4 linked regions of the Homo sapiens genome follow. The protein of the gene in region 1 interacts with the protein of each later gene in a pairwise test. Each region holds a gene or a part of one and is shown in the gene's direction. Other genes may lie near its edges.

Region 1 (4,474 bases):
AGTTTCTTGCCTGAATGCGGCTGACAAATGGGAAGAGAAAAGCATTCAGCAAAATACTCAGGAAACTTGCTGTTTTCATTATAATTCACAACCAGCCATGCCAAGGCCACTTTCTTTTGAAAATCCACTTCTTTAAAGTTTCTCAGGCCCTATTAGTAGCCTGAAGGAAATACTAATGACTGGCCTTCCGCACTAAGCCAAAGTGTTTGCTCTTCATAGCACTCAAAGCTTATCAGCGCAGAGCCCATAATTTATGGAGATAAAAGGAAAGGAGATATAGGTAAGAAGAGTGTGACCAGGAGACCTTATGCTACCTGTAAAAAAGTTCAGCCCACCCCATCTAACTTCTGAGCTCTGTTTGGGTGAAGATTTTCTGGCCGCATGGCTGCTCAGACTGGCATCCAGGCTTTGCTCCACCAAGAAGTTAAAGGCAGTCGGACATCTCAGTAGCATCTCTACCAGCCCTTAACTCAATGCATCTACCTGGCATCTCCCAGCAGTTACTTTTGGAGACGATTCACTGCCCCTGGGGCGTTTCCTTGAAGGTTTGTGGAGAGCGTGGAGAATGATGGGGCAATGGCCAATTGGAGGGTGGAGAGTGAAGAGCCGGAGCTGGCTGTGAGTGGTTTGGCCACATTTCTCAGGATTCCATGAGAGACTTGGGGAACTTGGGCTGACAAAGGAAGTAGCCTGGGGCATCCTTAAGGAAGGAATTAAGAAAAGGGAAAAAGCTGGACTCAAGCCACGCCATGAGGGTGAAAGGTTATAAGGCCCTGCCCCCTTTCCAGCTGCCCACCTGTTCCTCCTCCACACCTCTTCGCTTTGGGCCACCAAGAACCAATGAAGTCCACACCCTTTGGATGAGAAAAAGAGGGAGTTGGTTGGCCTCTCTTCTCCCTGTTATCCAATTTGAGGATATTTTGACCTTGGGTAAGGATGAAGTGTTAAAGCCACAGCTCCTCTCCACAAGAAGCCATTCATCTTGGGGGAGGCAGAGAGGGAAGTCTCTCTCCAAAGTCTATCCAGCTTCGCTTCGTTTCATTGATCTGCACAAGAGACAATGCTCTGGAAAAGGAAGAGGACCCCAGAAGGGTGCTTGGCAAGACAGAGGATGCTAATGGGCAATGGAGAGCACTCCCTCCAGCTGGCCCCTGCTGCTGCCTCCCGTCCTCTGCATGGGGTCAGGTGCTTCTGTGCTTGCTGTCCTACCTCTCTCCACAGCAGGGCTCTCAAAACCATTTTGATCCCCCATTGGCAGAGGGTTCCCCTCTTTACAGAGTTCAGTCATTAAAAGCATGGATCAGCTGTTAATCTCATTGGAGGAGGGAACTGTTTCCTGCATTCATTCATCTGGGAACCTTCTTGAGTAGCCACTGTCTGCCAGCCACTGCTCTAGAGATGGGAAAACAGCACGGAACAAAACCAAGGTCTTTCTTCCAGCGAATTTATATCCTTCAGGAAGCTGGTTCCTGCCACCAACTTAGCAGGCAACAGTTCTCCTCCCCTAGTGGCACAGGGTACCAGTTTTGTAGGAAAAGTGGTCCAGCAAAGGAAGAAAGCAGACCAACCCAGCTGCCTTACCTTATTCTGGGGCCATTCCCCCAGCGATGAGAGCTGCTCTTGTTTCTACTGCCACCATCTCTTCTGGCTGCACTTCACCTGCTGCTTGAGCTTCTGACCTTCCTTCAGTTCCACCAAATGAGGACAGGAAATAGCAGTCAAGACCCCTGGCCCTGCTGAGCGTGAAACAGAAGCAATGGATGAGTGCTGGACGAAGAATGGCCTGGGCAGAACAAATAGGGAGCATTTGAAAGCTTCTGGCTGATAAATCTCCAGGTGCATCCCGGTTGCCACGCCTGCCCCCATTAACCTGCTCCTGGTAAATACTGATCCAGCAGCTGCTCCAGGAGAGGCCGTCTTTTTTTCCCAGCCACGCTGTGTCTTGCATGAGACTCCTGGGGCCTGGGCACAGAGAGAAAAGAATTGAGACTCAGGAGGCTCAGTGGGTGAGAAAATGCAAAGTGGCTTCACAGACACAGGGCTGTGGGAGCAGATCGACGGGGAACTTGGGAGATGAACTTCAGGGCCTTCCGACGCCTTGTCTCAGGAACATGCTTTGAGAAAAATGGTAGCATCCTTTCCATAACTCAGTCTCTCTTCCCTAGTTTCCCTGAAGTGTGACGTTTTAGTATCTGGAGCTCAGTGATCCCCATGAATGAGGGATAAAGTTTCACTCTTGGTATTTTCTAACTAGTGCTAGGGAAAGTCCTGAGACACGATCACAGCCACTGCTTGGCATACAGGGCCTCCACCCAATAAGCAAACTGGAGATTCCTCAGCCTCTCGTGGACACCCACATCTCATTCTTCTCACAGCAGAGAAGCTCTCCCTTCAGCCTGAGCTGTCTTCTTTCTGCTGCAGTGCAGCCTGCTCCCTCCTACCCTGGCCTCAAGGAAGGTAGGAAACATCTTCTGCATTTCAAAGTCCTCACTTTGACTTATTTGGCCTTCATCTTGGCATGGAAGGTGGCAGGCAGAATGGAAATACTCCCCCCAAACAGAACAGATATTCTTGCGTGTGTAAGGGCAGAAGGGACAAGCTCTCTATCCCATGAGACTAGGGGCCGGAGCCCACCTGCCTTTCCCCACAACTTTTCCTGCTCAAACCCACTCCTCTTGACACACTGGAATCTGTATTATATATATTTTTAAGAAAATACAATGATGGTTGTCTGGTTTTGTTGTTTTTACAGGTGTTGTGGAATAAAAACTGTAAGAAAATTAAGTATTTAAAATGTTCCAATAAAGTGGGGTTTTTTGTTATTCTAATATATTATTGTGTACCTATTGTAAATATGAAACACTCCTATTTTGCAAGCTGAGGACACAATTTGTACTGTTGTTATATATAAATAAAGTTTACTGAATTAAAAAAACCTTAAATCTTTAAATAAACCCGATTGTTCAGCAGCATATATGCAGAATAACATTTTAAGGGCATATTTAAGAATGGTACTCATGGAAATATGAGCTAAGTTGTTTTGAGGGAGTTTTAGAATTCTCTCTGGAGCCAGAGCTTATTAATGTACCAGTCATCATCATCAACATAACACACACACACACACACACACACACACACACACACACACACACACACACACACACACACGAGATACCGTGGCTTATACCAGCAGGTGAACACTGCCCCCTAGCCCCAAGACCTCAGAATACAGCTTTCCTCCAACTGGAGGCAGCTAGTGTACTCCATGAGTTAGGACCCCTTCCCAGGAGAGAAGGGAGGTCTCAGAAGAATGAGATCCTCCTCTGCCTCCATGCTTAATACATGTTCTTCATGTGTTTGTACATTCATGTATACAAAGTGCATTCTTGTGCTTGTACAAAACGTATTAAGCACGGCCTGGCACTGTGGTAAGTGCTGGGGGATAACATAATAAGTGAGAAAGACATGATCCTTGTCCTCATCAACCTTTTAGTGTAGTGAAAAGCATAGGCTTGCTTAAAAAGGAATGTTTCACCATGCCTTGAGAAGGGGTTTTATGGTTGCTTTTTTTTGGTCATTTTCAGTTAAAGGATTAAAGGTAAATAAAGGGAAAGATGCCAGATAGTGTGTGCTTTTAGATCCAGTGCAGGTAAGACAAGAAGGCGGGCCCTGCCTAGGGGAGAACAGTAGCTGGGCAGACAAAGTCCAGAGGCAGCAGAAACATCACAATTCCACAGTAAGCCTGAGAGGTAGGGAATTGATCTTAGGACTCCTAATCCTTAGGGGTCCCTTAACCCTAGGAGGTCATGCCTCCTCCCCTCCTCTGTACTTTCATCTATTTTACGTTCTGGTGTTCCAACATGTGTGGGTGACACTTCTTCTCTCTGGTAAGAGAAATAGATGAGAATAACTCAAGTATCCATCTGACATCTCAACTGAGCATGCAAGCAAACTGCTGCTCACTATTTCCATGATAATGGGACCAGGAGAGTTCTGGGTCTTCAACCTTATACCAGGCACTAAGAGTAGAGCCTCCTGAAGGATGAGGTGCAGGCCCTGCCTTCAGAGTGCCTCCAGTCTAACATGGACAGCCAACACACAAGGGAGAATGGGGCCTGGGACTTGTAAAACAAAACATGTAAACAAGTGCATGTTGGTAAACATAGTGTGTGCTTACAGCTTCAAAGAGATCATAATTGGGAAGATTGTTAGTCCCGACTTAGCAGCCTCTGAGTTCACAGTGTTTGTGGGTCCCCCATCCACACCGCACACATGTACACACACACACCCTTCCCAGATGGAATGGAGAGATGCAAAAGCTGGTCCTGAGGGTGAGAAAAATGCAAACATAACACCATGAGGAGTCAGGAGGAGAGGAGAAGAGTGCAGTGCTGAGGTCTGCATGTAATTAGTGTGTCATTTTCAACAACACAGTGGGCCTCAGGCCTGGGGAGTGCACCCTTGGGCCTGGGGA
Region 2 (8,831 bases), about 54 Mb from region 1:
GCTCAAAAATTCAGTTCTGACGTTAACTACCCAGAGTTAATGCAGACCCCACAAGTTGAAAGCTCAGTTCTACAAGAGTGCCCCAACTTCAGAGGTTCTGCCAGCCAGCTACAAATTTGGAGGTTCCCATGACCGCCTTTCAAGTTTGATAACTCACTAGAATGACTGAACTCAGGAGTTTTACTTGCCGTTACTGTTTTTTTGTTTTTGTTTTTGAGACGAGACGGAGTCTTGTTCTGTCACCCAGGCTGGAGTGCAGTGGCGTGATCTTGGCTCACTGCAACCTTCTCCTGGGTTCAAGCCATTCTTCTGCCTCAGCCTCCCTAGTATCTGGGATTACAGGCATGCACCACTATACCCAGCTAATTTTTTATTTTTAGTAGAGGCAGCGTTTCACCATGTTGGCCAGCCTGACCTCAGGTGATCCACCCACCTCAGCCTCCCAAAGTGCTGGGATTACAGGTGTGAGCCACCACACCTGGCCCATTACTGGTTTATTATAAAGGTACAACTCAGCAACAGCTAAACGGAAGAAATGAGTAGGGCAAGGTATGAATGGGTATGTGGGTGGGGCACACACAACCTCCTTGTCCTCTGCAGGTATCCTGAAGCTCTCCAAATCTTATTGTTATGAGTTTTATTACCTAGGCATGATTGATTAAATCATTGGCCATTGGTGATTGGACTTAATAGCCACCTCGCCTACACCCCTGGAATTTGGTGGGATTGGGAGGGGCTTCTGAAAGTTCCAACACTCTTACCTGGTCTCTTTTTTTGAGACAGAGTCTCACTCTGTTGCCCAGGCTGGAGGGCAGTGGCACAATCTTGGCTCACTGCAACCTCCGCCTCCCAGGTTCAAGCGATTCTCCTGCCTCAGCCTCCCGAGTAGCTGGTATAGTAGGCACCCGCCACCACGCCAGGCTAAGTTTTGTATTTTTAGTAGGGTTTTACCATGTTGGCCAGGCTGGTCTCAAACTCCTGACTTCAAGTATCCGCCTGCTTTGGCCTCCCAAAGTGCCGAGTTACAGGTGTGAGCCACTGCATCCAGCCTTATCTGGTCTTTCTAGTGACCAACCCTCATCCTGAAACTATCTGGGGCCCCACCCTGGGCTACCTCATTAGCATTCAGGTATGGTTGAAAGAAGTGTGTTATGAGTAACAAAGGACACTATCACTTAGGAAATTCTAAATGTTTTAGGAGCTCCATGCCAGGAACAAGGCAAAGCTCAAGTATATATTATACCACAGGTAACTTTTGAAATTTTACGAAAATTGTGGGAAAAAATATCTCTCAGACTGCCCCTGTTCTAAAGCCATTTGAAGATTCCAGTGTTCTGGTATATGATTTTCTGTTTTAGGAATTGGTAATGACAGGTATTCAGTATTAAAATCATGGATAAGTACTTGTAAGTTTTGGCTGAGTTATTGAGCTGCCATGTTAAAACTAGCATTTGAGGCCGGGTGCGGTGCGGTGGCTAACGCCTGTAATCCCAGCACTTTGGGAGGCCAAGGCGGGCGGATCATGAGGTCAGGAGATTGAGACCATCCTGGCTAACACGTGAAACCCCTTCTCTATTAAAAATACAAAAAAAAAAAATTAGCCGGGCGTGGTGGCAGGCACCTGTAGTCCCAGCTACAGGCTGAGGCAGGAGAATGGCGTGAACCCAGGAGGCAGAGCTAGCAGTGAGCCAAGATTGCACCACTGCACTCCAGCCTGGGTGACAGAGCGAGACTTTCTCGAAACAAACAAACAAACAAAAACTAGCATTTGATATTTCATTAAATTAATAACTTCACTTAAAAAATTAACCATTATTATTGGCAACATCAGTGGAATTCAGCTATATACTGTAGTGACTCTTATGCATCAGTTATTTTGGGACATTTAAGCATTTCAAGGCTTTTGTGTTTGAACCCTTTTAGAAGAAGCCCCAGCAAGTGGCTTCATTTTGATCTAATCTGATTTGAGTGTTGGGGAATGTTAGCGTGTTCAGTCATTCTTCATGAAGATCCCTTCCCTTCCCCATTAGAATTGACCTTGCTGTTCTGCTGGGGAAGACACCATCTACAATGGAGAATGATTCATCTAATCTGGATCCGTCTCAGGCTCCTTCTCTGGCCCAGCCTCTGGTGTTCAGTAATTCGAAGCAGACTGCCATATCACAGCCTGCTTCAGGGAACACATTTTCTCATCACAGTATGGTGAGTAGGAAACGTGGTTTATCCTAATCAAACCTTCCTGCTAATCCTAGCACACATACACAGTTCCTTCCAAAGACAGTCAGGTTTTTGGCAGGTGAAGCATCCTCTTTGTCTTCTTAAGCAGACTTGGTTGTAGAAATGTTTGAGTTGGGTAATAGGGGGTAGCTCTAAGAGAGGACTTAGTTCTGGACAGACTGAATATTCTTATAAGAATAAGTTAACATTATTTATTGACTACTCATTGTGCTGAATGAACACCATTTGCCATTACTCTTGAGAGAAAATCAATGACATAAACTTGTCAATACATTTTAATCCTTTTGCAGCCCTCATTAAACTATGATGGGAGATTGTAGCAGTTCCCCATTTCTTGATGGATCAGAATTGTCTTGTATATTTACTTAAACCAGGTATTTGTAGACAAGGCCTCCAGAAACCTATGGTCTTCCCATTTCTGCCACTTACTAGCTGTGTCTCCATTTCTATGTAAATAGGGATAAAAGTGCTAGTCCTTCCCATCTTCCCAAAGGTGGCTATACAAGTGTGGTTTCAGTAGTGATATTATAAATAACTTAGAACTTATGACATATTACTTGTTGACTCAGAGCATTTAAAACATCCAAGGTCATTAACGACATCAAAGGAATCATTTAAACTAAACAAAGATGCTACAAGTACCAGTTTTCTCATAGTCATTGAGTCCTGAGAAGTACTGCTTTTTCTTTTTTTCTCTTTTTCTCTCCTATTTTTTGATGGAGGGATACTAAAGTTGTAAGCAGACCATGTGTGTGCATATAATTTTATTTTTCCAGTTAGAGTAATTAGTTTAACTAGAAAACTGCCAAGCTAGCTACTAATTCAGAACTCGGTCAGTTTTTAATTGTTGTCTTAAAATGTTTTTTGTGTGTGTTAAGTTAGTAATTTGGTGGTCGATGTCCTGCCACATAGGAAAGGTAACAGGTGAGAAGAGGTGGGAGGAGAAGGGAAATGGAGAGAAGTGTTGGGATTAAATAGAAAAAGAAGAAAGAAAATAGGACAAAGGTTGTAAGAAGGTGTAATGAAGATCAAGAAGTAACTACCAACCCTTAAAGATAAATGACTGGAAAATGTGATTATGTGATCTATGTCTCTTAATTGCCCTCTTAATGTCTGGAATTGTGAAAATTTACAACGAAATCAGACTTTTGATATCAAAAAGATGTTTTCAGCTGGGGACAGTGACACGTTCCTGTAGTCTCAGCTACTCTGGAGGCTGAAGTGGGAGGATTGCTTGAGACTAGGAGTTCAAGACTATAGTGAGCTTTGAGCTCACCACTGTACTCCAGCCTGGGTGACAGAATGAAACCCTTTCTCTAAAAAAAAATTTTTTTTAAATAAAAATGTGAAAACTAAGTATAAATACTATTCTGTTTTTTTGTTGCCTGTACTAATCAATATGTTAGATAATGTAATTTCCTTTCTATTGAGAATAAATGTTAGAGGATTAATTTCACTTAAAATTTAATAGAGCTAAATAACATGGGAGTTTCTTTATATTTTTATGTATAATACAGTGAACACTAGGTAATTTTAATTGTTTTTATTTTTTATTTATTTTTTATTTTTTTTTGAGACAGAGTTTCACTCTTGTTGCCTAGGCTGGAGTGCAATGGCGCGATCTTGGCTCACCGCAACCTCCACCTCCTGGGTTCAAGCAATTCTCCTGCCTCAGCCTCCTGAGTAGCTGGGGTTACAGGCGCCCGCCACCACGCTTGGCTAATTTTGTATTTTTAGCAGAGACAGGGTTTCACCATGTTGGTCAGGCTGGTTTAGGACTCCTGACCTAAGGTGAGCTGCCCGCCTCAGCCTCCCAAAGTGCTGGGATTACAGGCGTGAGCCACCGCATTCGGCCCAGTGATTACCCTATAGAACTTGTATGTACATGGAGAAAACAATCAAATCATACTGACTTGCTACTTGATTGTCTAGTGCAGAAGTTGGGATGCCCTTTAACTTTTCCTTTTTGCCTCTGTGCTAGTTATTAGCAGCATCGAGATGAGGCTCCAGTTAATTGTTGTTTCTTTTGAGTTTTTTTAATGAGAAGGGCAAGGACCTTAATGGCAAAAGTAAAATCTTATATTACATTTATGTTAATTGTATTGGTTGATTTAAAAATTCTCGGCTGGGTGTGATGGCTCACGCCTCTAATCCCAGCACTTTGGGAGGCCGAGGCGGGTGGATCACGAGGTCAGGAGATCGAGACCATCCTGGCTAACACAGTGAAACGCTGTCTCTACTAAAAATACAAAAAATTAGCCGGGTGTGGTGGCGGGTGCCTGTAGTCCCAGCTACTCGGGAGGCTGAGGCAGGAGAATGGTGTGAACCTGGGAGGCGGAGCTTGCAGTGAGCCGAGATAGCACCACTGCACTCCAGCCTGGGTGACAGAGCGAGACTCTGTCTCAAAAACAAAAACAAAAACAAAAATTCTCCAGTCAGCCAAATTTTATCCCTGAGAAGCAGGGAGAAGGAAGTAATGATGATATGAAGTTTTAATGGCTCTGTTTTTTTAGTGATTACTATGTGCCATACATGTATTAAGTGCTTTAATTTATTTAATCCTCCTACAGCTTTACTTTTATTCCTATTTCCAGATGAGGAAAGAGAGATTAAAAAATAGTTTTTCCAAGCTTACATAGCCAGGATTTCAATCTAAGACAGTCTGACTCTAGGTCCTATACTCTAGTGGACTATGCTGTATACTCAGTGTGACAGTATTCTTTACTTGCCTGATCTATACTGGCTCTCGGTCTGGATAAGTGTCTTTATGAGTAGCTGAACAAGGTTACTGGCTGTAGGTTTCTCTCATCTCTTTGTTGATCTACAGGTGAGCATGTTAGGGAAAGGATTTGGTGATGTCGGTGAAGCTAAAGGCGGCAGTACTACAGGCTCCCAGTTCTTGGAGCAATTCAAGACTGCCCAAGCCCTGGCTCAGTTGGCAGCTCAGCATTCTCAGTCTGGAAGCACCACCACCTCCTCTTGGGACATGGGCTCGACGACACAATCCCCATCACTGGTGCAGTATGGTGAGAAGATGGAAAGTGACTTGAATCTTTAAAGCATTGGAGCATTACTGTCAAGAGGCTAGCAGGGGGAGGGGGTGGAGAATGTGTCCTGAAGTGAAGAAAAGGGGCAGCTAGTTGGTTACCTTCCCACATGTATTTCCCCTAATCAAATAAGCTGAATTCAAGAAGTTGGGGAATAATAAAATTTGAGGCTATGTATTTCTCATCACATTTAGAGGCTGGGCATGGTAGCTTACACCTGTAATCCTAGCACTTTGGGAGGTTGAAGTGGGAGGACAGCCTGAGCCTTAGGAGTTCAAGAACAGCCTGAGCAACATATCAAGACTCCATTTCTAAAAAAATTGTTTTCAATTAGCTGAGTGCGGTGGTGTGCACCTGTGGTCCCAGCCCCTAGTGAGGGTGAGCTAGTGTGAAGCTAGCTTTCCGCAAAAAAAAAAAAAAAAAGAAAAATTTTTAACCATATACATAGTTGCAGTCTTCTGTTGATTGGGGTTTTAATTATTATTATTATTCTCCTTAGATTTATCTTCAGTGTTTGAAAATAACATATTGCCTCCAGGTTCTTAGGCTTAGCCATCTTAAGACCTTATACAGTAAGTCTTCACTTAATGTCATTGATAGGTTCTTGCGACTTTATGCGAAACATAAGACAAGGTCTAGTTCTGTCATCCAGACCGGAGTACAGTGGCACTATCTTGGCTCACTCATCTTCCTGGGCTCAAGCAGTCCTCCCACCTGAGCCTCCTGAGTAGCTGGGACCACAGGCTTGTACCACCATGCCTGGCTAATTTTTAATTTTTTGTAGAGATGGGTTTTCACCGTGTTGCCCAGGTGTGTCTCTTGGGCTCAGGCGATCTGCTGGTCTTGGCCTCCCAAAGTGATGGGATTGCAGGCGTGAGCCATTGCACCTGGCCATTTTTTTTTCCTCATCAACATTATAATGAAATCATGTTGAAGGAAACAACGTTATGCCAAGATATGCCATGCCTTGTTTTTGCTTAAAGCCAGTTTCCAAGCACCTATGGATGTTAAATGAGAACTTGCGGTACTTTAAACTTGGACAATTTGTGCATTCCTGTCTTACACAGACAGGGTAATGTTGATTTAGTTAGGCTTTATTTAAGGATGGTTGTAGGCCAGGTGCGGCAGCTCATGCCTGTAATCCTAGCACTTCGAGAAGCCGAGGCGGACGGATCACTTGAGGTCAGGAGTTCGAGACCAGCCTGGCCAACATGACAAAACCCCGTGTCTACTAAAAACACAAAAATTAGCCAGGCATGGTGGCGCGCGCCTGTAGTCCCAGCTACTCTGAGGCAAGAGAATTGCTTTAACCCAGGAGTCGGATGTTGAAGTGGGCTGAGATTGCACCATTGCATTCCAGCCTGGGTGACAGAGCAAGACTCCCATCTCAAAAAAAAAAAAAAAAAAAAGATGTAATCCAGTGATTGTCACCTATAGAAATGAGATTAAGCCCCAAAAGAGGGCCTGCTTATATGAGTTTCTGATTTTTACAGTCCTCATTCATGGTGCTAGTGCAGGACAATAGCATTTCCTTGAGATTCATTAGCATCTCTGGCTTCATATACTGGGTTTCCTCTTGCAGATTTGAAGAACCCAAGTGATTCAGCAGTGCACAGCCCCTTTACAAAGCGCCAGGCTTTTACCCCATCTTCAACCATGATGGAGGTGTTCCTTCAGGAGAAGTCACCTGCAGTGGCTACCTCCACAGCTGCACCTCCACCTCCGTCTTCTCCTCTGCCAAGCAAATCCACATCGGCTCCACAGATGTCGCCTGGATCTTCAGACAACCAGTCCTCTAGCCCTCAGCCGGCTCAGCAGAAACTGAAACAGCAGAAGAAAAAAGCCTCCTTGACTTCTAAGGTACTTAAACTTTTAGGTAGATACCATTTTATGGCAAGGGGTGTGGGGCTTGAGAATTGAGATTAAAAGGGTAAGTTTGGAAATTTAAAGGGAAGGGTTTTTTTTAGTCTTTAGTAAGGTTGTATTAAAGCCATTACTTTCTCTTCTCCTTCAACTTTATAGATTCCTGCTCTGGCTGTGGAGATGCCTGGCTCAGCAGATATCTCAGGGCTAAACCTGCAGTTTGGGGCATTGCAGTTTGGGTCAGAGCCTGTCCTTTCTGATTATGAGTCCACCCCCACCACGAGCGCCTCTTCAAGCCAGGCTCCAAGTAGCCTGTATACCAGCACGGCCAGGTAGAGGAAACATTAACCATAAGACCTCTCTTATTAACCTTTACTACTTTTTTAATCTGTGGGAGATTTCTAGAACTCTGGAGAGGCCAAGCCCCTCTGCATGGCTGAGGGGGAAAGTAGTCAGTCATAGCATTTTTAGTGCTTTAAAATATTGTTATTAGGGTTATCTGTAACTAAACAGGTAGAAATATGCCCCTTAGGGGCTGGGTGTGATGGCTGACACTTATAATCCCAGCACTTTGGGTGGCCAAGGCAGGAGGATTGCTTGAGGCCAGGAGTTCAAGACCAGCCTGGGCAACATAATGAGTCCCTGTCTCTACAAAAAAAATTTTTTTTTAAACACAGAGTTTCACTCTGTTGCTTAGGCTGGAATGCAGTGGTGCGATCTCGGCTTACTGCAACCTCTGCCACCCGGGTTCAAGCGATTCTCCTGCCTCAGCCTCCCGAGTAGCTGGGATTACAGGTGCCCACCACCATAACCAGCAAATTTTTGTATTTTTTAGTAGAGATGGTGTTTTACCATGTTGGCCAGGCTGGTCTAGAACTCATGACCTCAAGCGATCTACCCACCTCGGCCTCCCAAAGTGCTGGGATTACAGGGGTGAGCAACCGTGCCCAGCCCAGATTTTTTTTTTTTTTTTTTTTTTAGATGGAGTTTTGCTCTGTTGCCAGGCTGGAGTGCAGTGGTGTGATCTCGGCTCACTGTAACCTCTGCCTCCCAGGTTCTAGCAATTCTCCTGCCTCAGCTTCCTGAGTAGCTGAGATTACTGGAATGTGCCACCACATCCGGCTAATTTTTGTATTTTTAGTAGAGACAGGGTTTCACCATGTTGGCCAGGCTGGTCTTGAACTCCTGACCTCGGGTGATCTGCCCTCCTCGGCCTCCCAAAGGACTGGGATTACAGTCATGAGGCACCACGCCTGGCTCAGAGTTTTGCTCTTGTTGCCCAGGCTGAAGTGCAATGGTGCAATCTCCGCTCACTGCAACCTCTGCCTCCCAGGTTTAAGCAATTCTCCTGCCTCAGCCTCCCTAGTAGCTGGAATTACAGGCATGCACCACCATGCCCAGCTAATTTTGTATTTTTAGTAGACATGGGGTTTCACCATGTTGTTCAGGCCAGTCTTGAACTCCTGAATGGAGATGATCTGCCCACCTTGGCCTCCAAAAGTGCTGGGATTACAGGCGTGAGCCACCACACCCGGCCCAAATCTTATATGGTTCTTGAGGGAGCCTAGAATTCAGAATTCTCTAAAATGAGTGTGAACAAAAGATGGCTTTTCCTGTGCTTAGGGTCCATGTTATAATGTATAGAAGGGGCCAAGAGTAATGTATCCTGTATACCGACATTTA
Region 3 (7,000 bases), on another chromosome or scaffold:
AAAATAATTTAATTTACAATTAAAATTAAGAAATTTATAATTTCCTAATTATAAGAATGGAAGTGTCTTCTACATGTCACACTTCACCCAATTACCCAGTACATTTGTATGCAATACAAAGGATTTTTAAATTTTACATTCTATAAAATAATAGAAAAATCACCCAATCTATTTTATTTTATATGTGGAAGAAATTCATATCCAGGATCTTCCCAATAACAGAGCCCAAACTAGAACTCAAGTCTGTGTATTAGTAAATGAATATTAATTAGTGTAGGGCAAGGGAGACGGTTCTAATGAACACAAAACTGCTTTTATGTCCCACTACAAAGAGTAACCCAGGAGGAATAGAACCTATGTGGAGGTGGTAGGACTTGACAAGAGGAAAATGGGGGAAGCCCTGCTGAATGAAGTGGGGGAGCCCCTCTTCCCCTATGTACATAGGCATTACTATAATTACTATCCATCTTTGATTTTTAATTTCTTAGGAGAATCATATCTGTTTAACAGTGTTTTTAAAAGAATACACTAGGTTCTGATGATGATGATGACGATGATAAGCAATTCTTTATTGTAAAGATCAGTTTCTCTGAAACATTTCCATTTTGAAAATACCTAGAGTTATATTTCATGCATGCCTTGATATATATGAAACCAAATTCTTTTCTTTCTTAAAATATAAATTATGGTATTCCAGAAAGAGTTGAACTTTTTAAAATGTATTATGAACTGGTATATGACTGATTCATCAATTTGGATAAAGGTGTATGTGTGTTTTGTTTTACTTTAAAAAGTGTTTTTTATAGTACATTTTGATACAATGACTTGATGTTGTAGTCATTATTCTGGTTGAATTCACAATTCCTACCAAAGTCTTCAGACATTGTAGGAGGTAAATAAATCTTGCTTGGTTTGAATTAAAATGAATCTATATTAAAACATTTTCAAGTTATAGTAAAATTCATCTCACTAGCAAATGAAAAGCAGTGATCTTGGAGTTAGAAGTCTGAGTTGCAAGTTTAGATATACTTGACACTGGCTTTTTCTGAGCAAAATCACTTAGTGAATATGAGTCTAGTCTTCTGATTTGCAAAGTAAGTATAGTAATACCTACATTACAAGCTTGTTTCCTATTTTGCAAGAATGAATGTGAGAGAATCTATAGAATTTAAGGCCCTGGACACATGATGTATTTCCACATATTTCCAAAATTTTTTTTACAAATATTTAAGATATAGTTGTTAGGCAACTTATTAATCAAAATAGACCTCTCATATGATACTCAGAATTGCCTGACCCTTTCACCTTGACTACGAAAGGTAGGACAGGACAGATCGAGTGTTTCTCAGCCTACAGAATATCAAAATACATATTATTTTATTGTATTTTAAGAGGTATCTTTTCCTTGGATGTCAGGCAAATATACTTCAGTGCAGCTTTTGAACGATTAACATATTGGCAGTTTAAAATTATTTAACAGGGACATTTTATCATTATAAATGGGGAAATGACATTTAATTGATCTTAAAGGAAATGATTTTATAATTAATTAAAATGATCTTATGTCAAACACTAAAACTAACCCAGTATTTACATTTAAAAAAAATTTTAGAATGAAATCTTGGAAATTGCTCTGGATCAAAAAGGACTTACCAATGATAGAAAAATTGCTTTCATTGATAAAAATAGAGATCTCTGTATCACTTCTGTGAAACGATTTGGGAAGGAAGAACAAATTATCAAGCTTGGTAAAATAATTTTAATACATTTTAAGTTTTAATTGTCAACTTTCTTATATTTGCTGTAATAAATAATTTGAATGAATCTGGAAATGTTTTAATGTTTTGATCTTGTAATACTTCTTAGCTATTTAACCCTTTTTTTAAAAAAGTAGGAGTGAAAGTTTATTAAAAAGCTTTATTTTTAAATTTTTATTGTGTTTTATTGAGACAGGGTCTCACTCTGTCACCCATGCTGGAGTGGAGTGGCAAGATCAAGGTCACCAAAACCTCCGCTTCCTGGGCTCAAGTGATTCTCCTGCCTCAGCCTCCCAAGTAGCTAGGACTACAGTCATGTGCCACCACATCCAGCTAAATTTTTTTGTATTTTTGGTAGAGACAAGGTTTCACCATGTTGCCCAGGCTGGTCTCGAACTCCTGAGCTCAAGCCATCCACCTGCCTCAGTCTCTTAAAGTGCTGGGATTACAGGCGTAAGCCACTGGGCCTGGCCTATTTGAAAGCTTTAGAGCAGGAAAGAAAGGAAATAAAGTAAACTTGGTAGAGGGCAAGCAGGCAGCTTGAGAGATCAAGTGCACTGTTTGATCTTTGACTTGGGGTTTTATACTTTGGCATGCTTCTGGGGAGTTGCAACCCTTCTGCCCTAATTCTTCCCTTGGGTGGGCTGTCCACATGCATAGTGGCCTGCCAACACCTGGGAGGGGCCACATGCACAGTGTGTTTACTAAAGTTATACACATGCTCACTTGAGGCGTTTTTCCCTTACCACTCCAGTGTTTCTAGAGGAAGTTTGTATACCAGTTAAACTCCTCCACCATTTTGCCTGTTAGTCATGTGTGAGCCCACTCACCTAGCTCTTGAGATCTTATTGAGAAGCTACTGATTTCCAGTTTCAGTGTTTATATTGAGAGACTACCTTTCCCTGGCACTGGCTGCAACCAATTATTATTTTAGAGAGACAGCTTAACAACAGCCTGACCATCACCTGATGGTCACCTGACATTCCTGGTGCTGGTGGCAGGGGCCTCTCCTGACTTGCTCATGTCTGCCTGACTACCTGCTGTAACATTTCCACCCTCAAGAGTCCAAGACCCCAATTCTATGGGGAAAATGGACAAAAGTCAGTCTTCTGTAACTGCTTCCTGCTGACAGAGGGGCAATGGTGGTTATTCTGTGGATCTTGGCCTCTTGCTAGCTGTCAGGGCAGGGTGGCTCCGTGGGTTGGTGAAAGCAGTATGCAGCTAGGTCCAAGGGAGACAAGGGAGGACTTCACCTCTGTCATGTCCCACTGATGGGCAGACTAGGGGTCCCCTGTAGAAGAGTGACTCTTGAATATTGAGGGGACGGTATTCCTCACTGAGGATCATCTGGAGCTTGATGGCCTGAGGGCAAGAGGATTAACTTATTAGCAAGTCTTTAGCTGCTGCAGCTAAATTGTCACTGAAAGAAAGATTTACAGATTAAAAATATAAGGGTTCTAAGTAAAGCATTCAAATATTTCTGTAAATTCTTGTGTGATTGTTTGGTATGTGTTTTTCACCATTATAGAATCAGAAAGTAGAGTCATATCTACCAGAAATTGTATGGGATTTTGTTTGTCAGGCATTTTAAAGATCTATTTTTAATTCTTACATATTAAAGCTAATAGCACATTAACATTCTTTTTAAATTAAGGAACAATGGTGCATACTTTGGCATGGAACGATACATGCAATATCCTTTGTGGACTTCAAGATACTCGATTTATAGTGTGGTATTACCCCAATACAGTTTATGTGGACAGAGACATTTTGCCTAAAACATTATATGAAAGGGATGCAAGGTAACATTTTACTGCGTATAATTCTGTTTTGTAGTAAATAAAACTCTAATAGAGTATCATGTTTTGGCTTCTATTTTCAATCCTGCAAGGTGTTTTACACATCAGTCAGATTTATTGATGAATAAATTGTTCGGCTAAAGCTAGCTTGAGACTTAAGTGACAGAATCAAGTTGAAAGTGTGGTATGATATGAATTATTTATTTGTCCCTTATATGAATATAATTTTCAAGCTTAATATTGTGTAATGGTAGCTCAGGTAGTTTTCTCAGTGTGATCAAGTGATTTTAGTCTAGGCACTCTTTAAGATTTTTCAGGATGCACAACCTTGTGACAACTACCCAACGCTGTCACAGATTATCATTGACGTTAACACTTTCAAGAATGTAAATGTCTCTAGAATTGAATTTTTGGTTGATATTAAAAGTAGGAAAAGACCAAAGTTACTGAAATTTTTAAAAATTTATATGCTTCAGAAAATCAAACCATTTATATTCCTAAATTCTCTAAGAAATAGCAAGGAGATCTCTTATTCTTGACAAAATAGGAATACAAAGGCTTCTTAATTCTAGACCTTAGCTTAGTTTTCAAATCTGTTTTGAGTTTGTTTTTAGTATTCAAATTCAAAACCTTAACAAAACCAGAGAGGCATCAAAATAAAACAGCGTATTTTTAAAAGTATTTGGACTAATGAAAAAAAATTAGTCTTTTTATTTAAAGGTCATCTCTTTTTACTTATTTATTTTTAGAGTCAAGGTCACACTCTGTTGCCAAAGCTGGAATGCAGTGGTGTAATCATGGCTCACTGCAGCCTGGGCTTAAGTGATCTTCCCAAGTAGTTAAGGCTGCAGGTGTGAGCCACTGTGCCTGGCTCACCTCTTTTTATTCTGAGAAAATAGTCTTGGAATTTGGTTTACTTTTTATTGTTTTACCCTTTAATACTTTTAAAAGCTAAAGCTATATAAATTATTGTTGTGATTTATCTTAAGCCTCGGAAAAAAAGATGATTTCAAATGCTCTTAGGAATAGCTCTCAAATATGTAATAATTTTTGCTACTTTATATAGCAAGTTATATTCAAATGTTTACATTCAAAGTTAATTCCAGGGAGAATATGTATTCAAATAAATACATTGAAATTTTTTTTGAACATATACATTCTCCCTGGAGTTAACCTTTGGGGGTGTGCCTTTTGGAGATTGGAGACTCCGTGTGTATTTCACGGTCCACTCCCCAAATTTAATATACATGAAAAATTTTGCTCAGAATACAACTTTAAATTGTACTTTGCTTTTTTTTTCAACAGTGAATTTAGTAAAAATCCCCATATTGTGAGTTTTGTTGGAAATCAAGTAACTATTAGAAGAGCTGATGGCTCCCTGGTTCACATCAGCATAACACCATATCCTGCTATTCTCCATGAATATGTAAGCAGTTCAAAATGGGAAGATGCTGTGAGACTTTGTCGCTTTGTTAAGGTAATTTACATTTTAGATTCATAGTTGTATATATATTTCATAGTAGTTTACCTTTGTGCAAAATGAGTAATGATAATAGGCTTAAAGGCTGGAAAAATTGTGAATAAGATCATGTCTTTTTTTATAAGTAAAGACATGGGCAATACAGAGGAATACATGTTGCTGTGTGATTTATTCTCTGAAGACGCTATAAAAATTTAAACTGTTTTTCCATACTGGCACATATAAAAATCTTCTGTGGAAGTTTTCTGAAAGTCAGGTTCCCAAGTTCTACTCCCGTAGAGATTCTAATTCATTATATCTGGATTGAGTCCTGGGCATATTTTTTAATTTCCTCAGATGATTGTTTTGTACAGCTAAGGTTAAGAATCTCTGCTTTCGATCAGCCTTTTTCCAACTTGGTTGAATCTAGTATTTTTCAAACATGTTTGACCATAGACCTTTTTTATTGAACATCAGTGAACATTCCTTAGAATACACTTTTGTGAAATGACTTTTAGATGCTTTTTTTAACAATGGGTTGTTGGTGGTGAATAGCATCATTGTCTGGGGTAAATACCCGGAGTTTGTCATCTCACACCAAGAAAATCAAGGACGGACACATGTGGGTAGGTTAAGGAGTGGAAAGCGTAATAGGCAGAAGAAAGGAGAGAGGAGAGCAGCTCCTTGCCAGAGAGAGGAATCCAAAAAGGGAAAAGTGGTGGACTGCAGCAGATTTCATAGGCAGGCTTGAGGAGGCCGTGTCTGATTTACATAGTGCTCACAGATTGGTTTGACCAGGTGTGACATTTACATAGCACAGGGAAGGCTGGTTGCCCCACCCTAATCTTATTATGCAAATAGACTTTCCACCTGGCCAGTGCCATCTTGTATACTCCTTACTGTACAGATGGCTGGCAAAAAGAGAAGATGGAGCTGCTGTTTGAACATCCCCAGTCCCAGGTAGCATATTGCTATGGGCACAACTACTGGCATTCACTCATGCAAGCTTCCAGCTTGCTTGTTTATATCTGCAGCTCTATTTTACAGGCTGCTCTTTGTTAGAAAAGAAAATGATTTGGGGGCTGCTTTTCATTAAAAGGAAAACCTTATCGTAAAGGACTTCTGTACCCTCACTATCTGCCTAAGTAATTTCTTCTTAACTGGTATATCAGTAGCAATCTACCATAATATCATTGTCTGAGAACTTCACTATTTCTTTGGTTCCCTATAAATTACATTTTTTGACACCTCGTCAAAAAGACTGGAAGGTTTATAACCTTGAGTTATTATTTTAAATTCAGAAATAAATCCTTAATAACTCAAAATTGAAAATTTCATTCAAAAGTTTTCTGTGTATTAATATATTTTAACAAAATGGCCACAATGAAATTCCCACATTATTAGTTTTTTTTAATGCCCTGCTCAGTAATTTTTATTTTTTAAATTAAAATATCATTTTAGTATGAGTATTTAAATCACTGCTTATTTTAAGGCAGTTCAGTCACATAGTTAAGATAATTGTTCTCATACTTTACTTTAGGAGCAAACCATGTGGGCTTGTCTAGCTGCTATGGCAGTTGCTAATCGAGATATGACTACTGCAGAAATAGCCTATGCAGCAATTGGTGAAGTAAGTAATTAATGTTTACATATATGTACATGTGTTTTTTCTTAGCGTAATTTATTATATTTCTGTTACTATCTACTTCAATATTTTTCTTTTCTTTTTTAGATTGATAAGGTTCAGTACATCAATTCTATAAAAAATCTTCCATCTAAAGAATCAAAAATGGCCCACATACTACTGTTTAGTGGGAACATACAGGAGGCTGAAATAGTACTTCTTCAGGCTGGCCTTGTTTATCAAGCAATCCAGATCAATATTAATCTCTACAACTGGGAAAGGTAATAAGAATGCTTTCCATCAGTTCCAAAATCTGTTTGACCTTAATGTATTTTTCCATCTACCACTTAGTAAATTACAT
Region 4 (8,831 bases), on another chromosome or scaffold:
GAGCCTGATTGAGGTGGGAAGATTGGTTGAGCTCAGGAGGTCAAGGCTGCAGTGAGCTGTGATCGCACCAGTTCACTTGTGCCAGAGTGAGACCCTGTCTCAAAAAAAAGAAATGAAAAATTTTGCCTAACATTTTGGGAAGTCAAGGCAGGAAGATCACATGAGGACAGGATGAGACCAGCCTAGGCAACATAGGAGATTCCATCTCTGCATAAAATAAAAAATAAAATAAATTAGCCAGGCATGGTGGGTTGTGACTCTAGTCATCCACTCAGGATGCTGAGGCAAGAGAATCATTTGAGGCCAGGAGTTTGAGGATGTAGTGATCCACTGCTTCTGCCTTGGCAATAGAGCAAGACCGTATCTCTTACATATATACATAAACAAATCAAACTTTAGAAATTGATGTTTAGAGGCTATGTGTGGTGGCTCATGCCTGTAGTCCCAGCACTTTGGGAGGCCGAGGTGGGCAGATCACTTGAGGTCAGGAGTCCAAGAGCAGCTAGGCCAACATAGCGAAACCCCATCTCTACTAAAAATGCAAACATTACCCAGGTGTGGTGGTGCACACCTGTAATCCCAGCTACTCGGGAGGCTGAGGCAGGAGAATCGCATGAACCCTGGAGGTGGAGGTTGCAATGAGCCAAGATTGCGCCACTGCACTTCAGCCTGGGCAACAGAGCAAGACTCCGTCTCAGCCGGGTGCGGTGGCTCACGCCTATAATCCCAGCACTTTGGGAGGCCGAGGTGGGCGGGTCACGAGGTCAGGAGATCAAGACCATCCTGGCTAACACGGTGAAACCCCATCTCTACTAAAAATACAAAAAAATTAGCCGGGCGTGGCGGGCGCCTGTAGTCCCAGCTACTCAGGAGGCTGAGGCAGGAGAATGGCGTGAACCTGAGAGGCAGAGCTTGTAGTGAGCGGAGCCACTGCACTCCAGCCTGGGGGACAGAGCGAGACTCCATCTCAAAATAAAATTGCTATTTAAGAACTTACCTACATATGCTGGAAAGGATGTGGAGAAATAGGAACGCTTTTATGCTGTTAGTGGGAGTGTAAACTAGTTCAACCATTGTGGAAGACAGTGTGGTGATTCCTCAAGGATCTAGAACTAGAAATACCATTTGACCCAGCGATCCCATTACTGGGTATATACCCAAAGGATTATAAATCATGCTGCTATAAAGACACATGCACACGTTATGTTTACTGCAGCACTATTCACAATAGCAAAGACTTGGAACCAACCCGAATGTCCATCAATGATAGACTGGATTAAGAAAATGTGGCACATATACACCATAGAATACTATGCAGCCATAAAAAAGGATGAGTTCATGTCCTTTGTAGGGACATGGATGAAGCTGGAAACCATCATTCTGAGCAAACTATCGCAAGGACAGAAAACCAAACACCACATATTCTCACTCATAGGTAGGAATTGAACAATGAGAACATTTGGACACAGGGTGGGGAACATCACACACCGGGGCCTGTCATGGGGTCGGGGGTGGGGGAGGGATAGCATTAAGAGAAATACCTAATGTTAATGATGAGTTAATGGGTGCAGCACACCAACATAGTACATGTATACATATGTAATAAACCTGCACCATTGTGCACATGTACCTTAGAACTTAAAGTATAACAACAACAACAAAAAACTTAACCTACATACAGAAAGAAAAAAATGAAGGCAGGAATTACGATACTAAGGCACTGAATATGAACTCCTACATGATTAATGGAACAATTTATGTTTACTTTTAGGTGACCTTTGAGTTTATGTATGGGATGTATGACACACAAAACTAGATTTAACTTTCGATAAATCTGTTCATTTACCAACTTTTTAGTGAGCGTAGAATGTGTCAGCGCTGTGAAATTTAATATAAGTAATAGCTGGAAAAGTCTAGCTAGAATTTAACATTTTATGTGTTTATAATACATATAATAATACTCTATGTATTATATTGTTAATTGTAATCTTGGAGTAGCCACAGATGATCCAAAAGGAAATGGCATAGCAGCATTACAGAGGCCATACCTGATACCACTTAAATTTGAGGAAGACATTGATCATTGGTTTTAGCCATGTTGAGCCCCATTTTTAATTCCTGTCACTTCATGTTTTTAATTTCTGTCACTTCCTATTTGAGGAATAATCATTGATTAAAAGCTTCGTTTTTAACTTTGAAAGTCTTTATTTCTTTAGTTTTTGAAAGTCTTTGTTTCAGCTGCTACACTGTAATTGGCTCAGTTTGAAGTAAACACTTTAATCACCAAATTCTAAAATCAAGATATACTATCTATGAACAATTTGGAAAGAGAGTGAGATTGAATAATTGATTGAAATAACTATGCAGATTAATTTTCTTGTTCTCGATTTTTTTTGTTTTTGTTTTTTTTTTGGAGACATGGTCAGTCTCACTTTGTCACCCTGGCTGGAGTACAGTGGAGATGTTTCGGCTTAATGCAGCCTCAACCTCCTGGGCTCAAGCTATCCTTGCACCTCAGCCGTATGCTCGGCTAAATTTTTATTCTTTTTCCTTTTCCCTTTTTTTTTTTTTTGTTTTTGTTTTTATGGGATAGACAAGGTCTCACTATGTTTTCGAGGCTGGTCTCAGATTCTGGGCTCAAATGATCTTCCTGCCTCAGATCCTCCCGAAGAAGTTGGGTCTGTAGACATAAGCTGTGTTGCCTGGCTCATAGATCAACATGTTTTTTTATTTTTTATTTTATTTATTTATTTATTTTGAGACGGATTTTCACTGTTGTTGCCCAGGCTGGAGTGCAGTGGCGTGATCTCAGCTCACCGCAACCTCCGCCTCCCGAGTTCAAGCAATTTTTCTGCTTCAGCCTCCTGAGTAGCTGGGATTACAGGCATGTGCCACCACACCTGGATAATTTTGTATTTTTAGTAGAGACAGGGTTTCTCCATGTTGGTCAGGCTGGTCTTGAACTCCTGACTTCAGGTGATCTGCCCGCCTCAGCCTCCCAAAGTGCTGGGATTACAGGTGTGAGCCACCATGCCCAGCCCAGATCAATTTTTTTTTTTTTTTTTTAACCCCCGGAGACAGAGTCTTACTCTTTTGCCCAGGGTGGAGTGCAGTGGCGTGATCTTGGCTCACTGCAACCTCTGCCTCCCAGGTTCAAGCACTTCTCCTGCCTCACTAGCTGGGACTACAGGCACGTGCTACCAGGCCTGGCTAATTTTTTGTATTTTTAATAGAGATGGGGTTTCACCATGTTGCCCAGGCTGGTCTCAAAACGCCTGACCTCATGATCCACCCACCTCGGCCTCCCAAAGTGCTGGGATTACAGGCGTTGAGCCACTGCACCAGGCCTATAGATCAATTTTTATTAGCTTTAACCATACGATGTAATTTATTCTTCTGTGGTAGTTCAGTGATTATTAGTTTTGCGGTTATGTTCTAATCTGTAAGTAAGTTTAAAAAAAACATGTTATACTTCCGCTTTAGATGCTTCTTAGGACATATTGACATTGTTGTTACAAATACTGTTTACCTTTTTGTTTCTAGGCGGTCTATGCTTGCTTGGTGCTTATGCTGACAGTGATGACGATGACAATGATGTTTCCGAAAAACTAGCACAATCCAAAGAGACAAATGGAAACCAGTCAACTGATATTGATAGTACATTGGCCAACTTCCTAGCGGTTAGTGGTGCTTTCGTTTGGAGTTTTAGTTACTGAAGCTACTTTGGGACCTGGATCTTAAGTGGTCAGCGTACTTGTCAGTTCAATGTCTTCCTCCTCCTTTCTCCCTCTCCCTCCAACACTCTCTTGTATTTCTCCCGATCTCTATCTCTCTTTTTGTTTTGTTTTGTTTAACTTTAAGAGATGGGGTCTCACTGTGTTGCTCAGGCTGGTCTTGAACTCTTGGGCTGAAGCGATCCTCCCACCTCGGCCTTCCAAAGTGCTGGGATTATAGGTGTGAGCCATCACACCTGGCTGTCTCTCCTTTTTTTTTTTTTTCTTGAGATAGAATCTCACTCTGTTGCCCAGTCTCGAGTGCAGCGGTACGATCTCGCCTCACCGCAACCTGTCTCCTGGGTTCAAGTAGCTGAGGCTACAGGTATGTGCACCCGAGTAGCTGGGGCTACAGGTATGTGCCACCACACCCAGCTGATTTTTGTATTTTTGGTAGAGACGGGGTTTCACCATGTTGGCCAGGCTGGTCTCAAACTCCTGACCTCAGGTGATCAACCCACCTCGGCCTTCCAAAGTGTTGGGATTACAAGCGTGAGCCACCACCTCCCTTTTCTTTTTGTAAAGCTTTCAAAGAGAAGAAAGGCAAATTAGAAGAGACTGGGGAGCTTGTATAATTGGAAGATGAGGGTTTTGATTTGAGAAGCTTAGAATGAGTATCTAGAATTTTTTTTTTCTCCCTCGAGACTGGGTCTTACTGTCACCCAGGCTGAAATGTGGTGGCGTGATGTTGGCCCACTGCAACCTCTGCCACCCAGGTTCAAGTAATTCTCCCACCTCAGCCTCTTGAGTAGCTGGGATTACAGGCATGTGCCACCACGCCCGATAATAATTGTATTCTTTTTTTTTTGTTTTTTGTTTTTTTTGAGACAGAGTCTTGCTCTTTCACCCAGGTTGGAATGCAGTAGCGTGATCTCGGCTCACTGCAATCCCCGCCTCCCAGATTCAAGCAATTCTAGTGCCTCAGCCTCCCAAGTAGCTGAGATTACAGGTGCCCACCACCACATCCAGCTAATTTTTGTATTTTTAGTAGAGACAAGTTTTCACCATATTGGCCAGGCTGGTTTTGAACTTCTGACCTCAGGTGATCCGCCCGCCTTGGCCGCCCAGAATGCTGGGATTACAGGCGTGAGCCACCGTGCCCAGCCTAATTTTTTTTATTTTTAGTAGAGGGAGATTTCACCATGTTGGCCAGCCTGGTCTCGAATTCCTGACCTCAAGTGATCCACCTGTCTCAGCCTCCCAAAGTGCTGGAACTGTAGGTGTGAGCCACTGTGCCCGGCTCATGTAGAATTTTTAAAAAGTGATTGCCATTTCCTTAAGTTTCTTGTTTTTGATATAATTACTGCATTTGTTACTCTTTTCATACTGAAGGAGATCGATGCCATAACAGCTCCTCAGCCTGCAGCTCCTGTAGGAGCTTCTGCTCCACCTCCAACTCCACCTCGACCAGAGCCAAAGGAAGCAGCAACATCTACCCTTTCTTCTTCTACTTCAAATGGAACAGACTCCACCCAAACATCTGGTTGGCAATATGATACTCAGTGTTCACTGGCAGGAGGTAAACTTGATCCTTTGATTTTTAAAGAAAAGTAAAATCCTTAAAGGGATTCTAGGCATTCACTTTTCTGGTTTTTTGTTTGTTTGTTTGTTTGTTTGTTTTGAGATGGAATCTCGCTCTGTCGCCCAGGCTGGAGTGCACTGGCGCGATCTTGGCTCGCTCCAACCTCCACCTCCTGGGTTCAGACAGTTCTCCTCCCTCAGCCTCCTGAGTAACTGGGACTACAGGCGCACACTGCCATGCCTGGCTAATTTCTCTTTTGTATTTTAGTAGAGACGTGGTTTCACTGTGTTGCCCAAGGCTGGTCTCGAACTCCTGAGCTTAGGAAATCAGCCTGCCTTGGCCTCCCACAGTGCTAGGATTACAGGTGTGAGCCATCGCTCCCGGCTGGCATTCAGTTTTCTAAAGATGAAAGCCCAGAGACTTTAACCTTAGACTTTAGGATTCTGTCTTTTTATTTTTATTTATTTAATTGTTTTTTTTTTTTTTTGAGACTGAGTTTCACCCTTGTTGCCCAGGCTGGAGTGCAGTGATGCGATCTCGGCTCACTGCAACCTCCGCCTCCCAGGTTCAACCAATTCTTCTGCCTCAGTCTCCTGAGCAGCTGGGATTACAGGCACCCACCACCACGCCCAGCAAATTTTTTGTATTTTTAGTAGAGATGGGGTTTCACGATGTTGGCAAAGCTGGTCTCGAACTCCTGACCTCGGGGGATCCACCTGCCTCGGCCTCCCAAGGTGCTGTGATTACAGGTTTGAGCCACCGCGCCCAACCTCTGTCTTTTTAAATAAAGCATGTTGAAGATGGTAGGTAGGATAGTCGGCTCAGAAAACTAGTAGGATGTAATTTTTATCTTTTAAAAAGTAATTGCTTGTCCTTGCCAGTTGAATAAGAAAAGCCATGATATTCAAAGTATTTTAGGTACATTTTTGGACCAGCAAACTGCTTTTTTCTATTTACTAATTTAGAGGTGGAGTTTTGCTCATGTTGCCCAGGCTGGAGTGCAATGGTGCAATCTTGGCTCATCGCAGCCTTTGCCTCCCGAGTTCAAGCAATTCTCCTGCCTCAGCCTCCCGAGTAGCTGGGATTACAGGCACGCACCACCACGCCCAATTTTTGTATTTTTAGTAGAGACAGGGTTTCTGCATGTTGATCAGGCTGGTCTCAAACTCCCGACCTTAGGTGATCTGCCCACCTTGGCCTCCCAAATGCTGGGATTACAGGCATGAGCCACTGTAGCCGGCCAAACTGTTTTTTTTTAAAAAATGTGTTCAAAGGTGACTCTAAATGTTAGATATTGAGAAAATAATTCTTGGTGTTAGGCCAGTGGTTCTCAACCAGTGTTGGGGGGTGCCCCTAGGGGATATTTGACAATGTCTGTCAAATATTTTTTATTGTCACAATGTAGGAGGCAGGGTGGATGGGAGTGCTACTGTATCTAGTGGGCAGAGGCCAGGGGTGCTGCTAAAACCTCCACATAGGATTGCCCCTCCACAACAAAGACCTGTGTGCCCAAAAGTTAACAGTGCTGTTTTGAGAAACTGTTAGGTGATTTTGGCTTTTGAGCTTATATGTAAGCCAGAATTGTAGAGGGATTTGTGCTTAAAATTTGTTTTATCTTCTAGTCGGAATTGAGATGGGCGATTGGCAGGAAGTCTGGGATGAGAACACGGGATGTTATTATTATTGGAATACACAAACAAATGAAGTGACTTGGGAGTTACCCCAATATCTTGCCACACAGGTACAGGGATTACAGCATTACCAGCCCAGGTAAGAATAAATTTAAAAGTGAAATTGCCTAGAAGGAAATTGAAGCCTTATCTTTTGCTGATAGTATTTGTCTTATATTTCTCTTGCTAAGTATATATTTTTTTAGTTCTGTGCCAGGTGCTGAAACTAGTTTTGTGGTAAATACAGACATATATTCTAAGGAGAAAACGATTTCTGTTTCCAGTAGTAAAAGTGGACCAGTCATAGCCAAGCGAGAAGTTAAAAAGGTCAGTGTCGAAACTTACCTCATTTGTTTATTTTCAGATCTAATAAGCGTTACTCTGAGCACAGGAGTGGAAGCCTTCTCTTAATATTTTATGTCATACATGTGAAATAGGATAAGTTTCATAACTTTCACTTTGTTTCTGTGTATTATGTAGCCTTTATAGCGGTTACTCACTTGACTTTTTCTTTTTTCTTTTTTCTTTTTTTTTTTTTTTTTTTTTTTTTTTTTGAGACAGAGTCTCGCCCCGTCACCCAGGCTGGAGTACAGTGGTGCGATCTCAGCTGACTGCAAGCTCCACCTCCCGGGTTCACACCATTCTCCTGCCTCAGCCTCCTGAGTCGCTGGGATTACAAGCACCCGCTACCACACCTGGCTTATTTTTTGTATTTTTAGTGGAGACGGTGTTTCACTGTGTTAGCCAGGATGGTCTCGATCTCCTGACCTCATGATCCGCCTGCCTTGGCCTCCCAGAGTGCTGGGATTACAAGCGTGAGCCACCACATCTGGCCTTTTTTTTTTTTTTTTTTTTTTTTTTGATATGGAGTCTCGCTCTGTTGCCCAGGCTGGAGCGCAGTGGTGCTGTCTCAGCTCACTGCAACCTCTGCCTCCCAGGCTCAAGAAGTGATTCTCCTGCCTCAGCCTTCTGAGTAGCTGGCATTACAGGCACCTGCCACCATGCCTGGCTAATTTTTGTATTTTTATTAGAGGCAGGGTTTCACCATGTTGGTCAGGCTGGTCTCAAACTCCTGACCTCAGGTGATCTACCTGCCTCAGCCTCCCAACGTGCTGAGATTACAGGCATGAGCCACTGCAGCTGGCCCACTTCACTTTTTCTTTGAGAGCTTTAGGGTATCACAGAGGCCTCTTGGATCATTGCAAAGGACGTGGGAGCAGCAGTCCAGACAGGGCTCCACTTCACATAGAATCATTCTATTATTTTTCGGATTCCATATATAAGACATTTTAAAAATATAAAGGTAACTACTTTAAAAACTACTGCAGGTTGAGTATTTCTTAATTGAAATGCCTGGGATCGGAGATAATTTAGATTTTGAATTTTTTTGAATTCTGAAATATTTGCGTTATACTTAGCAGTTGAGTATTCTTAATCTGAAAATGTGAAATCTGAGATGCTCCAGTGAGCATTTCCTTTGATCATCATGTCAGTGCTCAAACGGTTTCAGATTTTGGATTTTTCAATAACGGATACTATGTTAGTGAAACCTGAGCATTTCTATAGCCTAATTAGTAAGAAAAGTAAGTTGTATTCCTTAGGGAGTGTATATTGAATTCCAATTTATCTTCAATTTTAAAGACTTTTTTGCATCAAAATATATTTTAATTTTAATTTTTTTCTTTTTGAGACAGAGTCTTGCTTGGTTACCCAGGCTGGAAGGGAGTGGCGCGATTTCAGCTCATTGCATCCTCCGCCTCCCAGTTTCAAGCAATTCTGCCTCAACTTCCCGAGTAGCTTGGATTACAGGCACAACGCCTGACTAATTTTTCTATTTTTTTTTAGTAGAGACGAGGTTTCACCAGT

The links.
Region 2: the proteins of PLXNA2 (region 1) and UBAP2L interact in a two-hybrid assay, tested with the Homo sapiens proteins (one study listed by BioGRID and IntAct).
Region 3: the proteins of PLXNA2 (region 1) and IFT80 interact in a two-hybrid assay, tested with the Homo sapiens proteins (one study listed by BioGRID).
Region 4: the proteins of PLXNA2 (region 1) and FNBP4 interact in a two-hybrid assay, tested with the Homo sapiens proteins (one study listed by BioGRID and IntAct).

What each region holds. Positions count from the first base shown.
Region 1 is NC_000001.11:208,020,722-208,025,195, reverse strand, and holds the end of PLXNA2 (plexin-A2 precursor), read left to right. Parts: 3' UTR 1-2,954; downstream 2,955-4,474. UniProt on the Homo sapiens protein: Coreceptor for SEMA3A and SEMA6A. Necessary for signaling by SEMA6A and class 3 semaphorins and subsequent remodeling of the cytoskeleton. Plays a role in axon guidance, invasive growth and cell migration.
Region 2 is NC_000001.11:154,244,174-154,253,004, forward strand, and holds part of UBAP2L (ubiquitin-associated protein 2-like), read left to right. Parts: intron 1-2,030; coding exon 2,031-2,202; intron 2,203-5,065; coding exon 5,066-5,264; intron 5,265-6,867; coding exon 6,868-7,145; intron 7,146-7,307; coding exon 7,308-7,480; intron 7,481-8,831. UniProt on the Homo sapiens protein: Recruits the ubiquitination machinery to RNA polymerase II for polyubiquitination, removal and degradation, when the transcription-coupled nucleotide excision repair (TC-NER) machinery fails to resolve DNA damage.
Region 3 is NC_000003.12:160,277,226-160,284,225, reverse strand, and holds part of IFT80 (intraflagellar transport protein 80 homolog), read left to right. Parts: intron 1-1,612; coding exon 1,613-1,748; intron 1,749-3,411; coding exon 3,412-3,559; intron 3,560-4,861; coding exon 4,862-5,033; intron 5,034-6,555; coding exon 6,556-6,645; intron 6,646-6,747; coding exon 6,748-6,920; intron 6,921-7,000.
Region 4 is NC_000011.10:47,749,377-47,758,207, reverse strand, and holds part of FNBP4 (formin-binding protein 4), read left to right. Parts: intron 1-1,216; coding exon of another isoform or gene 1,217-1,435; intron 1,436-3,543; coding exon 3,544-3,680; intron 3,681-5,105; coding exon 5,106-5,292; intron 5,293-5,810; coding exon of another isoform or gene 5,811-6,029; intron 6,030-6,917; coding exon 6,918-7,065; intron 7,066-7,171; coding exon 7,172-7,292; intron 7,293-8,074; exon of another isoform or gene 8,075-8,268; intron 8,269-8,831.